Linked DNA regions of Homo sapiens: region 2 is linked to region 1. Evidence: fine-mapped expression QTL. A gene starts in region 1. The other region holds a variant in brackets. All regions are shown on one strand. Distances are between the middles of the regions. Region 1 holds the start of CERK (ceramide kinase). Region 2 overlaps CERK (ceramide kinase).

Region 1 (4,382 bases):
CCAGTTTTTGCACAATTCTCCACCTCTCATCATTCCTCAACCTAATCAATCCCAGTGTGCCCAGATACACCTGGGGGAATGGGGAGGGCTGGGCAATGCCACCTTGCTGACCAAATTAAATGTCCTGTGAGCTGGTTCACATTCTTCTGCCCTACTATGGCCCTACTGACCTCAAGCATAGAAGAATCGAACCTGGGCCTGATTCCTTTTGGGGACTGTAAAGCTATGAGAAAAAAACTAGAGACAGTGTGGCTGTATTCCTGAACTCATTCACAACTTAGCGTTTCCCAACTTGTTGATGTTTTCCCATTGCATGGGAGAGCACTCCTGGGTGGAGAGGGCAGGCTGCTTCCTGGAGGAAGCCCACCAGCCAGGGCCACCAGCCAGGGCCCCACCATCCATGGCCCCACAAACCAGGGCCCTCCCTCTCCAAGAGGGACCAAGCTCCTGGCAGGCCAGTCAGGCAGCTCAGGATGAACCCGCACAAAAGCACCTTGGCTTAGCAAGAGTGAAGCAATTAGCATGCCAAGAGGCAAACCCCAGCAGGCTGGACAAAAGCAGACGCCACACCACACCAAGCCCTGACCTGGGGGACCAGAAACCATAATGGGAGCTGGCTGGGGACGCCAAGGCAGAAAGCAGTGATGACTGACCTCCCACACAGATGCCCTGTAAGGGTCTGGCGTCTCTGCGGCGGCTGGAGCCTGAGGGAAGCCTTACAGCCCAGTGGCTACAAGCACAGCAGCTAATTGGGCCAGTCACTTCCAGCCCCTGCAGATCGGCCCCTGCATCCCTAGGACGGGAGCAGCTGCCTCTCAGGAACCCATCCGGTTTGAAGCCCAGTGGCCCGCACTTAGGAAGTGCTTGGGGGAGGCAGTCATCTTCCTGAAGCCTAGGGATTTACAACAAAGTACAAACCCTTCGGGCCCAGGTCAGGCACCTGTTCTCCTTGTGTGTGGGCCCTGGTGGGTGATATTTGGGGTGTGACATTTCTACCAAAGGGGACATGAGAAATACCTTAGGAAAGTCAAGTCTCAGATGCCCAGCCACAGATAGGTGACCCCAGGGCTGGAAACCAAGTGTTGGTCATGGGTCTGAGACCACCCCTCGACCTTGGCCCCACCTAACGTTCAACTCTGTCCCCACCAGAACCCAACCCACAGATCCTCACCACTCAGCACCAGAAAGCGCCCAGAAGAACTCCTGACCTCGACTGCCCACAGGGTCTAAAGGTGTCATCCCAGGCTCCGAATATCCACCAGAGAATCTTGGCCTCCGCCACACCCACCCCATTCCAGCTCCGCACATCCAGCATGAATCCTGGCCTCTGCCACACCCACCCCAATAATTAAAAAGAAAAAAGGCTGGGTGCGGTTGCTCACACCTGTAATCCCAGCACTTTGAGAGGCTGAGGTGGGCAGATCACCTGAGGTCAGGAATTCAAGACCAGCCTGGCCAACATGGTGAAACCCTGTCTCTACTAAAATACAAAAATTAGCCGGGCGTAGTAGCGGGCTCCTGTAATCCCAGCTACTCCGAGGCTGAGGCAGGGAGAATTGCTTGAACCCAGGAGGCGGAGGTGCAGTGAGCCAAGATCGTGGCATTGAACTCCAGCCTGGGCAACAGAGCAACACTCCGACTCAAAAAAAAAAAAAAACAAAAAACAAACAAAAAACAACAAAAAACAAAAACAAACCCTCTGTCCTCCTGCAGGGCTCTCTCCAGGGTGGGCTATGCGTCCTCCATGTTTACCAAAGTCACTCTTCTCCTCATCCGGAGGGCCTCTGCGGGGCAAGTAGCCAACCCGTGGCACGGAAACCAATTCCCCCATCCCGAGCAGGGAGCACACCCCACAGAAAGTCAGGGGCCCCTTCTTTAACTTCTTAACAGGAAGTCCTCACCCTGCAAGGGCGCCTCTCAGGTTTCGGATCCCTGCTAAAGAAAAGCATCTGTTCTTGGAGTAAACTGCAATGCGCGCGGTGGGGAGCGCCTGGCACCCCCCCTCGGGATCCATCCACAGTCCGTCTTGTCCAGAGGTGCCCTGCGGACAGACCGCACCGGGGGCCACGACCCCGCGCCCCGGGTCCCACCTCCCCGCGGGGATGGGGCGCCGGCCTCCCCTCCACTGCGCGGCGCTTTGTCCTCGGGTTCCCGGAGCAGACGGCGGCGCACAGCCCGGCCCCTGGCCCCGGCCTCCCTCCCGCCTGCCCCGACCCCTCCCTGGCGCCTGCGCTCCCAGGGCCCCCGGCCTTACCACAGCCGCTCGCTCCCTGCACCCGGTCCCCCCAGCCGGGTCCCCCAAGCCGCCCCCGCTCCCTGGCCAGGTCCGGCCGAACCCGGGCGGCGGCGACACTCACCCGCGCCGGGGGCGCCGGCTCCGGGCCCCGGGCTCCGCCACCAGCGCAGCAGAGCCCGCGCGGGCTCCAGGCTCACGGCGCAGCGCTGCTGCTTCACCCACAGCACGGATTGCAGCGGCTCCGCCGCCCCCGTCGCCCCCATCTCCGCCGCCGGGCTCGTCCGCCAGGCTGGGGGCGCGCGGACGCCGAGGGGCGCCGGACCGTTAGCGGCCCCTGCAGTGGCCCGGGCGGCGGGCGGCGGGCGGCGGGAGGCGGCGCTGCGTCACCCCGTACGCGGGCGGCGGGGACCGCGGAGGGGACGGGCGGGGCGGGGGCGAGGAGGAGGCGTGGGTAGAGGAGGGGCCGGGAGCCAGGGAGAGACGGGGGGACCCGAGAAGGGGAGAAGAGGGAGGAGGAAGGGGCCGGGATGGGGCTGGCCGAGGCCAGGGCGCTGGGGCCGGGAGGCGGCTGCCTTTCTCTCCTCTCTTCTCCGGCGGGTGCCGGGTGCTGAATCTGGCGCTCCCGCGGCCGGCCGGGACTCAGTGGCGCCTTCCGCGCGGGCCTCGGTTCAGGCGGGGTCCGGGCGGCGTGGAAACGCAGTCCTGGCGATCGGGCGCGGCGGGGGGCGGGCCTGGATGGGGGCGCCACGGGCGACGTGACCTTGGGCGGCGGGTGCCCTCTACGATCCTGGCGTCCTGTCGGCCTGGGAGGGGGCCTGCAGCTGGGCCCCGACAGGCAGGTAAGGCTTTCAGGAGGCGGAGGTCTTTTTAGGGGGCGGGGGCGCTGGCCCTTTGAACTGCTCTGGGGCCTGAAGCCACAGAGCAGACAGCTGAGCAGCCGCCCCCGAGCTGGCCCTAGGAACCGGAGCCTGGGCCCCAGACTTGGAGAGACACGGCCCCTGTGGCCCCAATTCACCGCCTCCCCAGGAAGGCCTCCTTGACCCCACAGCTGAAGGAATCACCAGCCTGCAGGGACTCCAGCCCTGCCTTCAGAGCACGCCGTGCGCCTTCATGCAAGCTCCAGTCTCTGCGTCCGCAGTGCTTAACACAGCCCCATAGGAAGCAGCCACAACCTGGTTCGGAGGGCACATCCCTCCCTGATTTATCAGTGAAGACTGTGCTCACAGAGGTTAAGTCACTTGCCCAAGAGCACAGGGCTCCAGTGTGGCAGAGCCTAGGCTCACACTGACACTGCCTGGATGTGACACTGAGGTCTGAGGCCTGCCCCTCCCCTCGGCTCCCCTACCCAGCCCTGCTGCTGCAGGCAGAGGTGAGGTGGGCTAGGTCCACGTGGCCTTGCTGCTGTGCCTGGCACCAGGTGGCAGCATATACAGGTCTTACCCTGCCAGCTCCTTGTGACTGTCTTGTCTATAGGGCGGGAACCAGCCATGAATCATTCCTCCCTGGGAGCCCAGCCCCTGTTCAGGCCATGCAGTGAAGGCCCCAGGACAGTCCTGCAGCCACCGTGGGCCCAGTCAGAGTCCTAGCAGGCAGTACCTGATCGTGGCACACAGTGGGGTGTGCAGCAGCGAGGCCTGCCCAGCCTCCTCCCTCCCTCAGCTGCCGCTCTGAGGCCTGGGAAATGTGGATCTGAAACTTACTTGGAAAGAAAAGCTCATGCCAGTGGCAGGAGGGTGCCGCTGCATGCGAAGAGGGTTGGCAGGCAAGGGTGGCATGGGCAGGGGCCCGAGAGCACCAGCGTCCCTACTGGGGACCCCTTCCCTGGGCCTCCCTGTGCTTAGGCTCCCCGTGCCCCTCCCGGCGTATTCACGTTGCTGTCCCCCGGCTGCACGCCTTGGCTTAAAATCCTGCAGCCAGAGGTGGGGGCCCAGAGACGACTCAGAAGTGCTTAGGCCCCGAAGGAGCTCCGTTGGGGGAGACAGCAACATCAGTTACAAAACACACAGGAGATTCAATGAGGCTGTTAGGGTGGGCCCTCATCCAGCGCGTCCTTACAAGAAGAGGAAATGTTGACCGGGCTCTGTGGCTCACACCTGTAATCCCAGCACTTTGGGAGGCTGAAGCGGGTGGATCACCTGAAGTCAGG
Region 2 (4,382 bases), 52 kb before region 1:
CCGTCTCAAAATAAATAAATAAATAAAAATAGACATGTGGAGTGAAAGAAGCAAGTTACAGAAAACAACACGTTTCCTTTGGATAAGGAGCAAAACCTGCAAAACTAAACTCGCTGTTGCAGATACAGCCATGGACAGAGGCAGGAAGGGATGCGCTTGGCGTGACCTCGTAGCGCCCTCCCAGGGGGAGCGGGGGGACTCCAGAGCAGGGCACAGAAGGCTTCGGGGCGGCGTTCAGTTGCCTGGCATAGGTGGTGGTGACACCTTGCTTCATTTTATTCTTGTTCTTTAAATTGTGTGTGTTTTCATGAAAAATATTCTGCTTTGAAAATAACAGGTATGTGTAAAGGAAAGAAAGCAAGCCAAGTCTGCCCAAGTAACTTTATTCGTGTCTTCTCAAACATTTCAGATCAAATAATGCCATTTTCTAATCTTGAAACCAGCAAGATTAGAAAGAGAATGAGGCCATCCTTTCACTCAGACTTTCCCAGTTACTCAAGATTGTATTCAGGAACGAAGTCAAACTCGGCCTCACTTCTTAATTAGAATAAACTAGAATCAGGTCCATTGCATAACTGCTAATTGTTTTGCACCAGGGAGCCACAAAGGAAGCTAAAACTAGCCTTTCTAAGTTATCCTAAGTTTTTACTATCTAACCAGCACTTCTGATTTTTTTTCCCTTAAAACTCTAAAGTACAGGTGTTGTATGTCTGCCGCATCTGAAAGGCTGCCCCGGAAATCAGAGCCTATCTAGCGGGAATGTCTGGGCAGTCACCCCCATCCTGCGCGCAGATAGCAAAGGGCTGCTGGCAGGTGTCAGACACACGGTACCGCAACAGCAGTCCCGAGGTCTGAGATTCTGAATGTCAGCAGGTGGCTGGAGAGTATCACCAGAGCCACTCAGGAACCAGCCATGCGGAATGGCTGGGTTTCTTATTGAACATGAAATGCTTCCTCTTTGGCCTGGACTGTTTTGCTAAAATTGTTAGTGGGTTTTGGGGCAGGCCAGTGTATGGGAAACTTTTTTTTTTGTTGGGGGGGGCGATGGAGTCTCCCTCTGTTTGCCCAGGCTGGAGTGCAGTGGCGCAATCTTGGCTCACCGCAACCTCCACCTCTTTCTTGGGTTCAAGCGATTCTCCTGCCTCAGCATCCCTAGTAGCTGAGATTACAGGCGTGCGCCAACAAGACTGGCTAAGTTGTGTATTTTTAGTAGAGACGAGGTTTCACCATGTTGGGCAGGCTGATCTCAAACTCCTGACCTTAGGTGATCCACCCGCCTCGGCCTCCCAAAGTGCTGGGATTACAGGCGTGAGCCACCGCGCCCAGCCGGGAAACATTTACCAGGGACAATAAAGGCTTAGAAGAACCTTTTGGGGAAACTTTGTGAGGAGCACAATTCCAGAGGGCCCACAGCAGCCACAGCCTCCTGGCGTGACACCAGGCACACTGCCGGCTGCACAGGTTGCTGGGCACAGGCAGGCACAGCCAGTCTGGAAGAGCAGCCCGTCTTAAATCTTTGGTTTCTTTCCAACCAGGAGCAAACATTGGTAGAAAGAGCCAGGGCATATTTACTCTTTACACCCAGAATTTTCATTCATTATTGAACCATTTGGCTTGCACAGTGCTCTCTGATAATGTGGTCCATAAAAACCACCATTAAAGCTGCCCTTTCACCTGATCTGGGTGGGGCTAAACGAGGAAACGAGAAGTTTCCTGTATGCTTCAAAATATAAATCAATGCCAGGAAATTCTGAAAATGGATGCTGCCTGTTAAACATGAAATCACTAAGGGAGCTTCTGCAAAACCCACCCGGCAGCATGAGGAACGGTGTCTACAGCGTGCTCCAAACGGCCACGGCCCCGCTCCTTACAGATCAAAGTTTAAGCCGCATATTCTCATATTTCAAACAAAACTACGTTACAGACATCATCTACGTGGGCACGGATACACACTAAACAAGGACGTAGTACACAATTGAGGGGTGCCCCGGGGAGCGCGGCAGGAATGCCTTCCGGGAAGAATCCTCTGGTCGCCGGAGCCCTCGCGCTGCAGAGGAAACCAGCGATCCATCGTGGCTTCGAGGCAAAAGACAGACATCCGAGACGCAGTTTACACTACTCTGGCTTAAAAGGACAAGATGTTCAATAAATATAGAGAACTCAGTGTGAAGAAAAGACAAGGACAAATCTGGACCACGTGTACAGACTTCAGGCCCTGCCTCAGAGGAGTCCTGCGGGAGTCCAGGACCGGCCCCTCCTCCACGGATGGCCAGCTTCCTCCTGACTGCCCCCAAGCCCGGCTGTGTTAAGCACTTCGCGTCGATATAAAGCATTGGTATTTGACATTTTAACAGTAACAAACTTGCCAGTGCTTTACACACTGCCAGCTTCCAGAGCTTATCATCCGTGCTCCCAGAACAGACGCCAAGGTCATGCTCCCAGCCGGATTGTCGTAGCCTCGCCGCCGTGATGAGGCAGGTGTGGAGGCCCCAGCAGCCTTCCCGG[C/T]GCTGGCGTGGAGGCCCCTCCCGCGGATCACCTGAAGCAGGGCCACGTTGCATTGCAGTTGCACAGTATTGTAAGGATCAAGCAGCGATGTCCTAACCGTAAACGAAGAGGAAGGTGAAATGAAGGCAAAGAGAATCAACCACTTCCCAAAACTTGGCCACAAACCGTTACAGAATAAGTCCTGCAAAGTGGATCAAAGTGACCCACTGCTACCTCAGGCCCAGATGGTGTGACCTGCGTGGAAATCATATAATGTCCCTAACATTATTGCAATAGAGCCACTAACGGGCCATTTTCTAAACTACACTGTTGACATCGTTAAAACCTAAGAGGCCAGTGCCCCCAAGTGAGCAGCTGCATCCGCTGAGAGTAAGCGGCGTGGGCTGCAACCCGCAGATGCGTACAGAACTGAAAATGCCAAATATGTACACAAAATTGTTGACAAAAGGGTTTTCTTCTAAAATCAAGATTTAACTATCAAAAATAAATTTCTACATTTAAATGTATATATCAACATAATTGGTCTGTAATAATTATCTTAAATAGTTTTCACACTTTCCCAGTTTGTGAGCAGGACGCCGGCTTCTCAGCTGTGTGAGTCTGGCTTCGGATTCTCTTCAATTCCTCGTGCAAAGAGTCGAACCAGCTGGCAGTGGACTCTGCAGAGACAAGCGGCCACGTGTAAACCCCACGTGTCCCTCACTCAAAGCTGGCCTGAGCCCCACTCCTGGACAGGGGCTGCAGTAAACCCCACGTGTCCCTCACTCAAAGCTGGCCCTGAGCACCGCTCTTGGACAGGGGCTGAAGTGGGGGTCCATCCCCCATGGAACGGTCAGACGTCACCGTGGGCTGTAGGAGTCCAGCCCACAATGACGGGCCCTGGGCGTGGAATAATTCACTTAGACTCCCGGGATGCCGAGTTTGTAAAGGGGTTGCCAATGGCCAGGTGGGAAATCTGGGCATCGGTAGACCTGACTCGAACTCCAGCACCCCCATGGAAAGCAGAGCGTCCGCTCCAGTGTCTGCCCACTCCACCCACCCACCCACCTCCATTTTCTCAGCAGTACTGAGCGCGCAAGGCCTGCGAGGAGTCTGTGCGGGGCGACTCAATGCGTGTAAGAGATGTGTGAGGAATGCTCAGATGAGAAGGACAGGTGGCCCAACGCCAGCAAGAGCCTTCGGGCTTGAGGAACAAGTTGGGGGTCCCTGGAGGTCCCCTGCCCAGGGGCTCGGTGGCCACAGTGAGTCCGTGGGTGAGTGCCATCTTCCCACACAGGACAGCTCTATTTATCTCATTTATTAATGATATCACAGCCTCCTCAGACGTATTTCAGTAACCTAAACCCCTTCATTAAGTGACAGGCTGGGGCAGGGCACAGTGACTCACGCCTATAATCCCAGCACTTTGGGAGGTCCAGGCGGGCGGATCACCTGAGGTCAGGAGTTTGAGACCAGCCTGGCCAACATGGTGAAACCCCGTCTCTACTAAAAATATAAAAATTAGCCAGGTGTGGTGGCGGGCGCCTGCTACTTGGGAGGCTGAGGCAGGAGAATTGCTTGAACCTGGGAGGCAGAGGTTGCAGTGAGCCGAGACCTCGCCATTGCACTCCAGCCTGGGCAACAAGAGCAAAACTCTGTCTCAAAAAATAAAAAAATAGAAATAAATAAGTGACAGGCTGTTTCCATGGAGCTGAGCTCACACACACACAAATTATATTTTTAAAAGCGACGTGCTGCTCAAGGCATAGCCATATTTATCAAGATAGACAGGACGTATTTCAAGAATGCCTGTCCTGATTTTCAAATTATTCTATTTCTTTAATAAATACATACACCAATATTAAAAATAATCCCACTTCCCAAACTTGTCAAATGAG

Evidence for each region. PIP is the estimated chance that this variant, and not a neighbour inherited with it, causes the effect.
Region 2: its variant is fine-mapped to the expression of CERK in whole blood (TOPMed, PIP above 0.99).

What each region holds. Positions count from the first base shown.
Region 1 is chr22:46,735,650-46,740,031 of GRCh38, forward strand. It overlaps CERK (ceramide kinase), which reads right to left and starts at 2,603. Exons shown (of 13, transcript NM_022766.6): 1 at 2,358-2,603. The coding sequence starts at 2,499. It overlaps LOC105373077 (a long non-coding RNA gene), which reads right to left and starts at 743. Exons shown (of 2, transcript XR_001755593.2): 1 at 654-743. RefSeq lists enhancers at 415-988, 1,676-1,845, 3,084-3,742, 3,116-3,445 and a silencer at 1,996-2,955.
Region 2 is chr22:46,684,043-46,688,424 of GRCh38, forward strand. It overlaps CERK (ceramide kinase), which reads right to left. Exons shown (of 13, transcript NM_022766.6): 13 at 368-3,164. The coding sequence ends at 3,092. Among named protein-coding and RNA genes, the nearest start is that of CERK, 52 kb to the right of the region's middle. RefSeq lists a silencer at 2,270-2,564. The variant C/T (reference allele first, on the strand shown) is at 2,506.